2 separate regions of the Homo sapiens genome follow, and region 2 is linked to region 1. The links come from fine-mapping of genetic effects on gene expression. A gene starts in region 1. The other region holds a variant in brackets. All regions are shown on one strand. Distances are between the middles of the regions.

What was found. PIP is the estimated chance that this variant, and not a neighbour inherited with it, causes the effect.
Region 2: its variant is fine-mapped to the expression of EIF5-DT in nucleus accumbens (GTEx, PIP 0.96).

Annotation. Positions count from the first base shown.
Region 1 is chr14:103,332,669-103,338,035 of GRCh38, reverse strand. EIF5-DT (EIF5 divergent transcript) reads left to right here and starts at 3,376. Exons shown (of 1, transcript NR_158216.2): 1 at 3,376-5,367. EIF5 (eukaryotic translation initiation factor 5) reads right to left here and starts at 3,799. Exons shown (of 12, transcript NM_001969.5): 1 at 3,776-3,799; 2 at 3,439-3,647; 3 at 2,104-2,383; 4 at 1,919-2,000; 5 at 1,187-1,359; 6 at 809-920. The coding sequence starts at 2,175. It overlaps SNORA28 (small nucleolar RNA, H/ACA box 28), which reads right to left and starts at 187; the gene lies at 62-187. RefSeq lists silencers at 2,944-3,183, 3,294-3,343, 3,484-3,903 and an enhancer at 4,224-4,343.
Region 2 is chr14:102,730,945-102,736,311 of GRCh38, reverse strand. No RefSeq gene overlaps it. Among named protein-coding and RNA genes, the nearest start is that of TRAF3, 44 kb to the left of the region's middle. The variant G/A (reference allele first, on the strand shown) is at 2,933.

The DNA of each region.
Region 1 (5,367 bases):
CCCTGTCATCCCTCATGAACAAAGTCATTAACTCAACCCAGCTTTAGCCAACAGGTGGAACACTGTTTAAGTCTATATAACGGCTTGTCTCATGGGAGAGAGAACACCGGAATAGGTTAGACTTTCTTGCTATAGCAAGCTCAAATTGTGTCAGACAGTTTTGATCATCTGCCACAGAGTGTTGCTTGCAATATTCAAGTTTAATGAAGGGGGCCCTCTTTACCAAACAATGCCAGTAAAAGAAACTTTGCTGGGTTTCCAGCAGAATTTTAGTCATTACTTCATCTACCCTCAGATAATGTCTTAATTGATATGGCACAGTTTAATTGGCAGCCTATTTTTCACCTTTAATGGTAATTAACAATACACTTTTGAAAGATGTCTTAGATTTGATAAAATATAGTACAAGGACTAAAAGGTTCCTTATATTGTTTTTTTGAGACAGAGTCGCTGTTGCCCAAGCTGGAGTGCAGTGGCACGATCTCAGCTCAGTGCAACCTCTGCCTCCAAGGTTCAAGCGACGCTCATGCCTCAGCTACCGGAGTAGCTGGGATTACAGGAGCACACCACCATGCTAAGCTAGTTTTTGTGTTTTTAGTAGACGGGTTTCACTATGTTGGCCAGGCTGGTCTTGAACTCCTGGCCTCAAGTGATGTGCCCGCCCTGGCCTCCCAAAATGCGGGGAATACAAGCATGAGCCACCGTGCCCAGTCTCCCTTACATTCCTATTACAAAAAAACCTTCTATTTTGTTCCCAACAGTTAGTAACTTATCTTAGGATCTTAGGAGTTCATCATGGAAGACTCACCAGGTGGGTTTTTGAGAATGAATGTGCAGAGTTTATGATGTGTGTCAAGCATGCCTCGATAGCCACAGGCTTTACAAGAATTACCTATTGTTTGCTTCTTTGGATTGACATGCTGCCAAAAAAATAACAAATGTTATCCATAATATAACATGAAAATATCTAATCAGAGGACATCTAAACCACAGACAGCTTCACATGCAAAGAAAACTTTTTTCACACAGTGACCTACTTTAAAAAAAAGAATGGAAATATCTCGAAAACTGGAGTTTTGTGTTTGATTTAAAATTACATTTGCTCTGCCTTCTCAGGAAGGTGACTTAGCGGTATCACAGAAGCAGGTATATGGCTTTTTCTTTCGACAACCACAAAAGCACTTACCAAATCTGTTTCAGGATTCTCACATTCAGGACAGAGAACAAATTTTTTAATGAATCCATCCAACATGTCTTGCAGCTTATTCGCCTCATGAGATCCATTGACAATGTAACGGTCATTCTTAACATCAAACTGGGTCTGTGCTCCCAGCTCACAACCAAAATATTTGGTGGGATCTATTTGAATGAAAAAGGAGTTTGGATCGTTACAGTTAACTAGATCTCTGGCTACTCACTCACATTTGTACGAACACCACTTTTTTTTTTTTTTTGAGACAAGAGTCTCACTCTGTCACCCAGGCTGGAGTGCAACGGCGTGGTCTCAGCTCACTGCAACCTCCGTTTCCGGGGTTCAAGCGATTCTCCCCCTTCAGCCTCCCAAGTAGCTGGGACTACAAGCGCATGCCACCACGCCTGGCTAATTTTTGTATTAGTAGTAGACTCAGGATTTCACTATGTTGGCTAGGCTGGTCTAGAACTCCTGACCTCGCGATCCGCTTGCCTCAGCCTTCCAAAGTGCTGGGGGTTACAGGTGTGAGCCAACGCGCCCAGCCATCCACTCTTTAAATGCGTTCCCCTGGTAGTTTTGTAAACTCATGGCAACCAATAAACCACGGTTCCTCACTTAACTTGTAAGGTAATTAGCTAGCATACAATTAGAACAAGTTTTGCAGCTCAAAGACTTTGAAGACTCTATCCATAATATGCCCTGTGGACTTTTCCAAGCTTTACTTACACGTTGGAGGCCGATTAAGCGCCTTTGCAACGTCAACCATGTTGACTATAACTGTCTTGATTCCATTGCCTTTGCCCTCAACCTAAAGGAAATAAGAATTTTAGTTGTGCAGTTTCCCCTGACAAATGCAAACTTCAAAATTCTACAAAAAGAGCTATCAACTAAATTGAAGAGCAGTTTATTACCTTGGCAATCAGACGGGGCATCTTGTAGCGATAGAACTGGTCTGACACGCTGCGGTTGACATTGACAGACATTTTGGCTTATTAGTGGCTTTATCAATAAGATGAAGAGATCTTTGATTGCAACTTTTTGGTATCTTCTGTCTGGAGAAGAAGGGATGACATAAACGACTGCAAGAGTTCTCGGTCTCTGACATGAAAAAATTTTCGCCACTGAGGCTGTAAGCTTCTTGCTTGTATGCTATGTTTCCCCAATACAGGTACCAATGGCTGCGCAACAGCTCTGAAAGAAAAAGGGAAAGAACACACAAAAATCCCCCCAGGTTTAACATCATCGCTGGATGGAAACGCCTCCTTTTTACATCCTAGTTATGCTTCTGCTTAACTCCACCTTAAAAAGCATCTGAGATCACATGCAAACAGCCATTCTCATGTAACACAGTACAATCTGCGGGAACATAAAAAGGCCTCCATTTCGACTAAGCTGTGACTGGTAGGGAAATGCCTGACAAGAAAACACAAGCTGTGCTGCCTCAGCCGCCGTGAGATTCCATCAGACCGAGGGCAATCAGCAGGTTTGCCTCTGCGGCCATCCTGGAAGTGCTGAAGAACGAACCCGAGCCCTCTCCGCCGCCCACCCCGCCTGGATAAGCAAACTTCTCAGGCACACCCCCGTTCGTCTTCATTTTTAAGGGCAACCTAGGGAACTGTTCTCTACAACTAATCGTTGCTTCGGCAACCATGGCTTACTTCAAAGCAGCACTTCCTTAAACGCAGCGCTCGCCCACAATTTGCCATTAAGCAAGAGAGCGCGAGCGAACGCCAGGCTCGCCCCGGCCTCCCTTTTCCTCGCTATTCAAATACTCGGTTAACCTTCGCCCTGGTCCCCATGGCTACCGCGCTCCGAGGCGTTTCCGCGGGGGCTGGCGAACCGGGCAGCTCCGCGAAGGAGGGGGGCGCGCGACCGGGGCGTCTGGCCCCATCCCCAGCGCGTCCCCCGAGAGCCGGCGGCCCCGGAGGGTGCACAGCCGGGAAGCGACACACGGCCGAGGGGTGCCGGGATCGGGCCGCCCCCGCCCCAGAGCGCGCGATGACTCACAAATGCAGCAGCTGAAGCCTGAGTCAGCCCGAGCGGCGGGCACGCGCGACGCGCTCCCGCCATGCCGGGGAGGGGGCGAGGCCGGGCCGGGGAGCGCGCGGGGAGGGGGCGGCCGGCGCCCGGGCCCGCGCCCGCCCGCCGTCCGCCCAAACTGCGCCACACGCCGCGGCGGGGTCACGCGGCGGCCGCCGCCATCTTGTGCGGCCGCCATCTCCTGGCCCGCCGCGCCCGCGACTCACCGTTTTCGTCAAATAAAGACATAAACCCAACGCTGCTCGCCCGGGACTGGGATGAAGTGAGGCGCGATATAAACCCGAGTCCGAGTCCGAGGAGGCGGAGGCGAAGCGCAGCGAGGAGCGGCCGGGCCAGGTGCCGCCGCCGAGCAGCGGGGAGGGGCTGTCCCAGCGACGTCCGCGGTCCACACCCGTCAGCGCCGGAGCTGGGCGACCTGGCGCGGAGAGACGGCGCCGTGAGCCGTGGGCGGTCGGGGAGTGCACCTTCCCCGCCAGCCAGCGGCCCGAGGGGTCGAGGGGGCGGGAAGCACCGGGCAGGGGGCCGCCCCTTCACCGGACTCACCTCTGGAATGTTCTCGCTCTGACTGAACAACGCCGCCGCCGCGCTCAAGCTACCCTCGGCCCCAGCGTCCGCCCCCCGCGTCAGGCCTCACTGCCCATTGGCTGGAGGCCTGCCACAGCTCGCTCGTCATTGGTTCGCTTGCGACGTCAATCGCATCTTTCCGCGCCCCTTCTGCTTCCTGAGGCTCAACTCGCGGCCTCGGCCCGCCTCCAGCCCCGGTCTCGCTTCCTTCCTCTCCCCTCCCCCCGCCTTTCCCAGAGGTCTTCGCGGCGCAGCCCTTGGGTCTCGCGAGACCCGGAGTGGCCCTGGTGGCGGGGCCGGGGTACCGGGGGCCGTTCTTTGTCGGTTTGGGCCTTGAGGGGGAGATGGTGGTTGGTCCCCTCCCTCGCCGGGTCTGGGACAGGCCGCGGCGTCATGGCGACTCCCGGGACGCAGGAGCCATCGTCCTCGAAACTGCTTTCGAGGCCGTGTTTTTGCGGCTGCCACCTTCGGGGAGAGGAACCCGACCGCGTTCTCCCCGCAGCGGGCGCTCATCTCCCTTTCCCGTTCTCCCGGGACGCCCGACTCCGGGCCTCGAGGAATGAGTTGTTTTTCCACCTTAAGCCCCAGGCCTGGGTCTTTCATCCCAGGGACGTCTTCTGTTTCGGACTCGGGGTGGATTGGCCGCTGGCGGAACGAGTCCGTGACTCGCCAGTGACCGCCCAGGGCGGTCGCGAGGCCGCGCCGCCTCGGTGTCGGCCCGCAACCCAGCCTGCGCGCTTAGCTCAGCGCGTCGCCTCCCGTTTTCGGAAGAGGAGGCCCTTAATTGGTTTGGAATCCTGGGGCCTCCTGAAGGCGCTTCGTGGTGGGTTCCCACCTTCTGGTGAAGGCCTCCCTGCTCTCCCAGGGTTGAAAAGCGCTATCCTTCGTGCTTCTCTTGTCACCTTTCTCCTAGTGGGCATCACGTCGAGTCCACCCCCTCTAGTTTATGACTTGTGAATTCTTTGATAAGCAAATCGTAGCCCAGAGCAGGCATTTATAATGAGATTCCAATGTATTCCGTTGAAAATTACTATTATTTAGGCCGGTCGCGGTGGCTCACGTCTGTAATCCCAGCACTTTGGGAGGCTGAGGTGGGCGGATCACCTGAGGTCGGGAATTTGAGACCAGCCTGGCCAATATGGTGGAACCCTGTCTCTACTAAAAATACAAAAAATTAGCTGGGCGTGGTGGCTCGCTTGTAATCCCAGCTACTCGGGAGGCTGAGGCAGGAGAATCCTTGAACCCGGGAGGCACAGGTTACAGTGAGCCGAGATCACACCACTGCACTCCAGCCTGGACAACAGAGCGAGACTGTCTCCAAAAAAAAAAAAAAAGAAAATTTTTATTATTTAGAGAGAGGCTCTCATATTTTAGTTCTGTTGAAACTCTCCCATTCTTTCTGAAACTTGGATTTTTTTTGTGAAAACTTGAGTCTTAAAAACACATCCATAGTTCACCCTGAAGTTTGAAGACCTCACTTGACTGATGGAGCGAGAGCCCCGCTAACCTGCACTCTGGTCTCTAAGGTGCAGTCATCGAGAAGTCCTGAGCGGCCGTGCAGGTTTCCCGAT
Region 2 (5,367 bases), 600 kb after region 1:
AAGTCTTGGCTTCCTCTTCTATAGAACAGAGATAATGACAGTCCCTACTTGTGAGGTTAACATAAAGATTAAATTATGAAATGCATGCTTGGTCCTTAGGGGCAAAGCAGTCACCAATAAATCTAGCAATTATTACTAAAAAACATAAATAATTTGCTATATAGCAAAAGACACACTTAAAATTATTTATATATTTATTTAGTTTTTTGAGACAGGGTCCTACTGTCGCCCAGGCTGGAGTGCAGGGGCGCGCCTGTAAACCCAGCTACTTCGGAGTAGTAGCAACTTGGCACGCCATTCTCCTGCCTCAGCCTCCCGAGTAGCTGGGACTACAGGCGCCCGCCACTACAGATGGGGTTTCACCGTGTTAGCCAGGATGGTCTCGATCTCCAGACCTCATGATCCACCCGCCTCAGCCTCCCAAAGTGCTGGGATTACAGGCGTGAGCCACTGCACCTGGCCTGAACCACACAAAATTCTAATACCCTCCATTGACAAGGAAACAGCCTACTTGACTGCAAGGGGCCAGTTCCTCCTGTGCTGCCACTCACCCTTGCCCGGGCGAGCCGCTGTCCTTATTCAACTGTCCCTTCCTCCCGGATGCCTTCCCCATGACTGCGCAGGTGGGACCATCCCTTCCTGCTTCCAGTGTAGTTGTGAGAAGCACTACCTGCCCCATCTTGGCAGGAAGGTGTCTTCAGCTTGTCCAGGCCAGAACTTGGCCAATCTCCTCACATGTATCAGCCAGCCAACTCCCCATTAAGGAGCGTGGATGGTAAGAAGGGCACCAAGGAATGGAGGGAGGGGGAGGACTTAGAATCCGGAATTCAATCTCATTTAAAATCTACAGCCAGGTGCAGTGGCTTACGCCTATAATCTCAACCCTTTGGGAGGCTGAGGTGGGTGGATCACTTGAGGTCAGGAGTTCAAGACTAGCCTGGGCAGCATGGAGAAACCCCGTCTCTACTAAAAATACAAAATTAGCCAGGTGTGGCGGCACTCGCCTATAGTCCCAGCTACTCGGGAGGCTGAGGCAGGAGAATCACTTGAACCTGGGAGGTGGAGGTTGCAGTGACCCAAGATGACGCCACTGCACTCCAGCCTGGGCAACAAAGTGAGACTCTGTCTCAAAACAAAAACAAAAACAGTTAACTGGGCGTGGTGGTGCATGCATGCCTGTAGTCCCAGCTACTTGGGAGGCTGAGGCATGAGAATCACTTGAACTTGGGAGGTGCAGGTTCTAATGCGCCAAGCTCCCACCACTGCACTCCAGCCTGGGCGACAGAGCAAGACCCTGTTTCAAAAAAAAAAAAATCTACAATCACCAGGCCTTCAGATTTGAATGTTTCTTCCCCTAGTCCTTTGGCAATAAATACCTAAGTAGCAGACAGCTCAATAAACAAGAAAAAGGCCCAGAAAACCCTAAGCCTCAGCTAATTCCTCTCTGGACACCCAGGAATTGGCAGCTGGGAATCCCACTCCCTGGGAGTCACTCATAAGCCATGGCAGGGCCTTTGATCCGTAAGCACGGGGCCAGCAGGCGTTTATTTTTCCTCCGCAATGCACCCGATTTCTCTATTCCGTTACTACACATCTATGTGCCTATTATTCCCAGCTGTGGGGAACTAGAGCACAACAGTGCTGACCTCAAGGAGCTCAATCTAGAGAGCCCGACAGCTTATCAAACACCTCAGATCAAAATGTGCAATTATCACAGCGTTAGCAAGGGCGTGGGGCAACAAGCGGCCTTGTTCACGCAGACAGGAGAAACTGATGCAACTGCTCTGGAAGGCCAGTGAGCAGTACGTATCAAATGGAAAAATGAACCAGATCTTTTCATCCAGAGATTCTATTTATCCTGCAACTACACTGGCACATAGGTGAAGTGACGTGATTTCCATTCTGCTGATGTTACAAAGGATACTTCTGTGCCTGTCAATTGACGATGGTTTCCATAAATCATTTCCGCCATAAATGGAATACCATGAAGCCAATACAAAGGAATGAAGCAGCTTTATTTTTTATTTTTTGAGGCACAGTCTCACTCTGTCACTCAGGCTGGAGTGCAGTGGCGCGATCTCGGCTCACTGCAACCTCCACATCCTGGGTTCAAGTGATTCTCCTGCCTCAGCCTCTCGAGTGGCTGGGATTACAGGTGTGCACCACCATGCCCAGCGATTTTTTTTTGTATTTTTAGTAGAGATGGGGTTTTACCATGTTGGCCAGGCTGGTCTCAAACTCCTGACCTCAGGTAATCCACCCGCCTTGGCCTCCCAAAGTGTTGGGATTACAGGCGTGAGCCACTGCGCCCGGCCCACAGTGACTTTAGACATATGTGCTGATGCAGGAAGGCTAAGAAGACTATCAGTGTGTCAGGTGGGCAAAGCTAGTGTGTAGAGTATGTCATTTGTGTGCACACATGCATGCCCGCAAATGTGTGATCATCCCTTGAGGGATATGCAAGGAACTGGCAGCAATGGCCGCCTATGGAGAGAACTAGGTGATCAGAGGACAGGGATGAGAAACTCACACTTCACGTAGGCCTTTTATACCAGGAACGCTAGTTAACTATTTCTAAAATAAAAATTTAAAATCACTTCATTACAGTTAGCACAAAGAGGTCAGCACAGAATGAGGCTTAAGTTGTAGAGGCCCCAAGAATCAGTCCCCCTGCAGAAGGTGGAGGAAGGGGTTCGTCAGGACCAGAGACGGACGGGGACGCATGACTGGGCCCGGGGCAGGCCGAGCTGAAGGGAAGGTGCCTGGCCGCACCCCTGAAGTCAGGTTAGGGCAGAATGAAGGGCTGTGCATTTTCTGGGAGACAGATGCAATGCTTTCCGCTTTCCACAGGAGAGGTCCCTGATTAGGTGGGGGGTGGGAGAGAAAAGGCAAGAGGAATGGTGGGGATTAGGGGCAGGTTAGTTAGGAGGCC[G/A]CGGCACCCCCTCGGGTGGGAAGAAGGACTTGTGCTGTCCCTGGCAGTAGTGATCGATCAAAGTGCTTCTAACTTGGCGACCAGATACACAGCAGTGTCACACACCACAGAAGATGCAGAAACAGGTGCCGGGGAAAAGGGTTTTAGTCTCAGACTTTGTGTAATTTGGAGGCACGGATGGGCATGGGGGTGGAGTGGTCCAGGGGCAGCTGAGCTCTGGGAACAGGGCTTTAGGTGTGAGCGCTGTGGAGTCCTCAGGTGCTGACGGAGCACCCAGGCAGTTGGGAAACGGTGAAGGGAGGGTGAGCTGGCAGAGCGGGCAGGCAAGCGGATGCTTCAAGGCCTGTGACTGTGCTCCTGCTTCTGGGACAACAGGAAAGTGTACTTGGGGGGCTCTCTTGGGGGGTGGGTTCCATTCAGCCCAGAACCAAAGGATCGGCTGGGCGTGGTGGCTCACACCTGTAATCCCAACACTTTGGGAAGCCAAGGTGGGGGGATCACATGAGGTCAGGAGTTCGAGACCAGCCTGGCCAACCCAGTGAAACCCCATCTCTACTAAAAATACAAAAATTAGCTGGGCATGGTGGTGCGCACCTGTAATCCCAGCTACTCAGGAGGCTGGGGCAGGAGAATTGCTTGAACCCGGGAGGTGGCTGCTGCAGAGAGGAGATCATGCCACTGCACTCCAGCCTGGGCAACAGAGCAAGATTCAATCTCAAAAAAAAAAAAAAAAAGACCCCAAAACAAAGAATAAGTCAGGGTCATCCATGAGCTAGTCTGGGCCCAAATGATGCCCCAGGCATGGCCTCTGATCTGTCGAGAAGGCAAGCAATTTGCATAGAGCCTCAAATACCTGTCAGCTCCAAGAGTCAGTGCCTAGCATGTGCTTGGCGCGTGGGAAGCACGGTGCTTGGGAGCTGCAGGGAAGGGAGCTTCTGAGAGCCAGCACCTGCCTCCAAGCAGTGCAGCTGCTCCCCGTTGGGCGTGGGTACTATGGCCTTTCCAGCAGTGTCAGCACCAAGTGCTCTCAAGATCTCTCCCTCCCATAAGCTGAAAGGCTGGGACAGGCCTGGCAGGGACCTCACCAGGCCTCTCCCGAGCCTTGTAATTCTCACTGTGGTGCTGTCTTGGCCTAGATTCCCCGCAAAAGCAGAGCCTGAGATGAGGCTTTGTGGGTAAATGGTTTGCTTTAGAAACCAATCCCAGGCAACAGAAGTAGGGGGCCAGAAAAAGTGAGGCAGGGAAGGAGAATCAGTCCTAGACCATTTCTGAGCTGGTCTCTGCAGGGGGCCGCTGAGGGGGAGCTGCTGTCTATGGCTGCCTTACCCAGATTACCCAGAGCTGCCCCTGGGGATGGAGCTCCCTGCTACTTCCAGGCTGCTGTTCCTGAGCTCCCCTAGGTCACCTACCTCAGGGTGCTGCAGTCACACCTGTCTGAAGCCGGGGTTGTGGGGAGGGCCAAGATGATGGGAAGTGAGGCACAGAGGCGCCTCATCTACACCTGTATACAGGTGTTTTTTTCCCCCTCAGTCCGAGAAAAGGGAGCTGGAGCCAGGGCCTCCATGTGTCTGACTCGGGACTCACAGCCCGCCTGCTATCCCTTCCTATCCTGTGCCCTTGCACGCGCTCAAGTTAGGCCAGTCTTTGAGAGGGGCTCTCCCTCAACCCTCCATAGCTCCCTCTTCCCAGCCTCAGCCATCGCCCGGGGTTCTTTGAAGTCACTAAAGGCCAAGTCCAAATGGCTCCACCTTCAGTGCCCAACCTAGCAGATGTCCAGCAGCATCTTGGCAGGGGGCCACCTTGGCCTCAACCTTCCTCCTCTCTGTCCTTGGCACTCATTTCCTCTTGTTCTAGACCACAAGCCACCTTCACAAATCACAGCGGAGGTCCCAACACTCTTGGCCTCGGCCCCTAGGTGCCACCCTCACCCAAGCAGACCCTCTCCCCTTTCCACAGGCTCAGCTCCGGGACAGGCACTCTCTAAATTAGATGCGAGGCAGCTGCAGCCTCCCTCCCAGACCTGCCTGTAGCTGTGGCTCCACTCGCCGTGGTGCTGACTGCTGTCACCTGGAGGATATGTGCAGTGTCCTCCACTAGACTGTCCACGCTGGGAAGGCTGGACCCGGTCACCCTTCTACAACCCTCCTACACTGTGCAGTCACACACAGGGGCCCCATCTGCCTGGACCTAGAAATTGGGTTTCTATAGAAGTTATCTAGTGAGCAAGCTCAGTGGCACAATGGATAGTGCACTGGACTTCTAGCCCCAATCTACAGTAGTCATCTAATCAAATTCTACATCCCAGCTAATAAAGGGAAGACCATGAGACCACAGCCACCGCCAGCTTCTTCACGCTACTCAGGAAACTACCGGCACTGGTGTGCATGCACTCTTGGCTGAGCAGAGGCCACAGCGGCAGTGATCTTGCCTCTGCA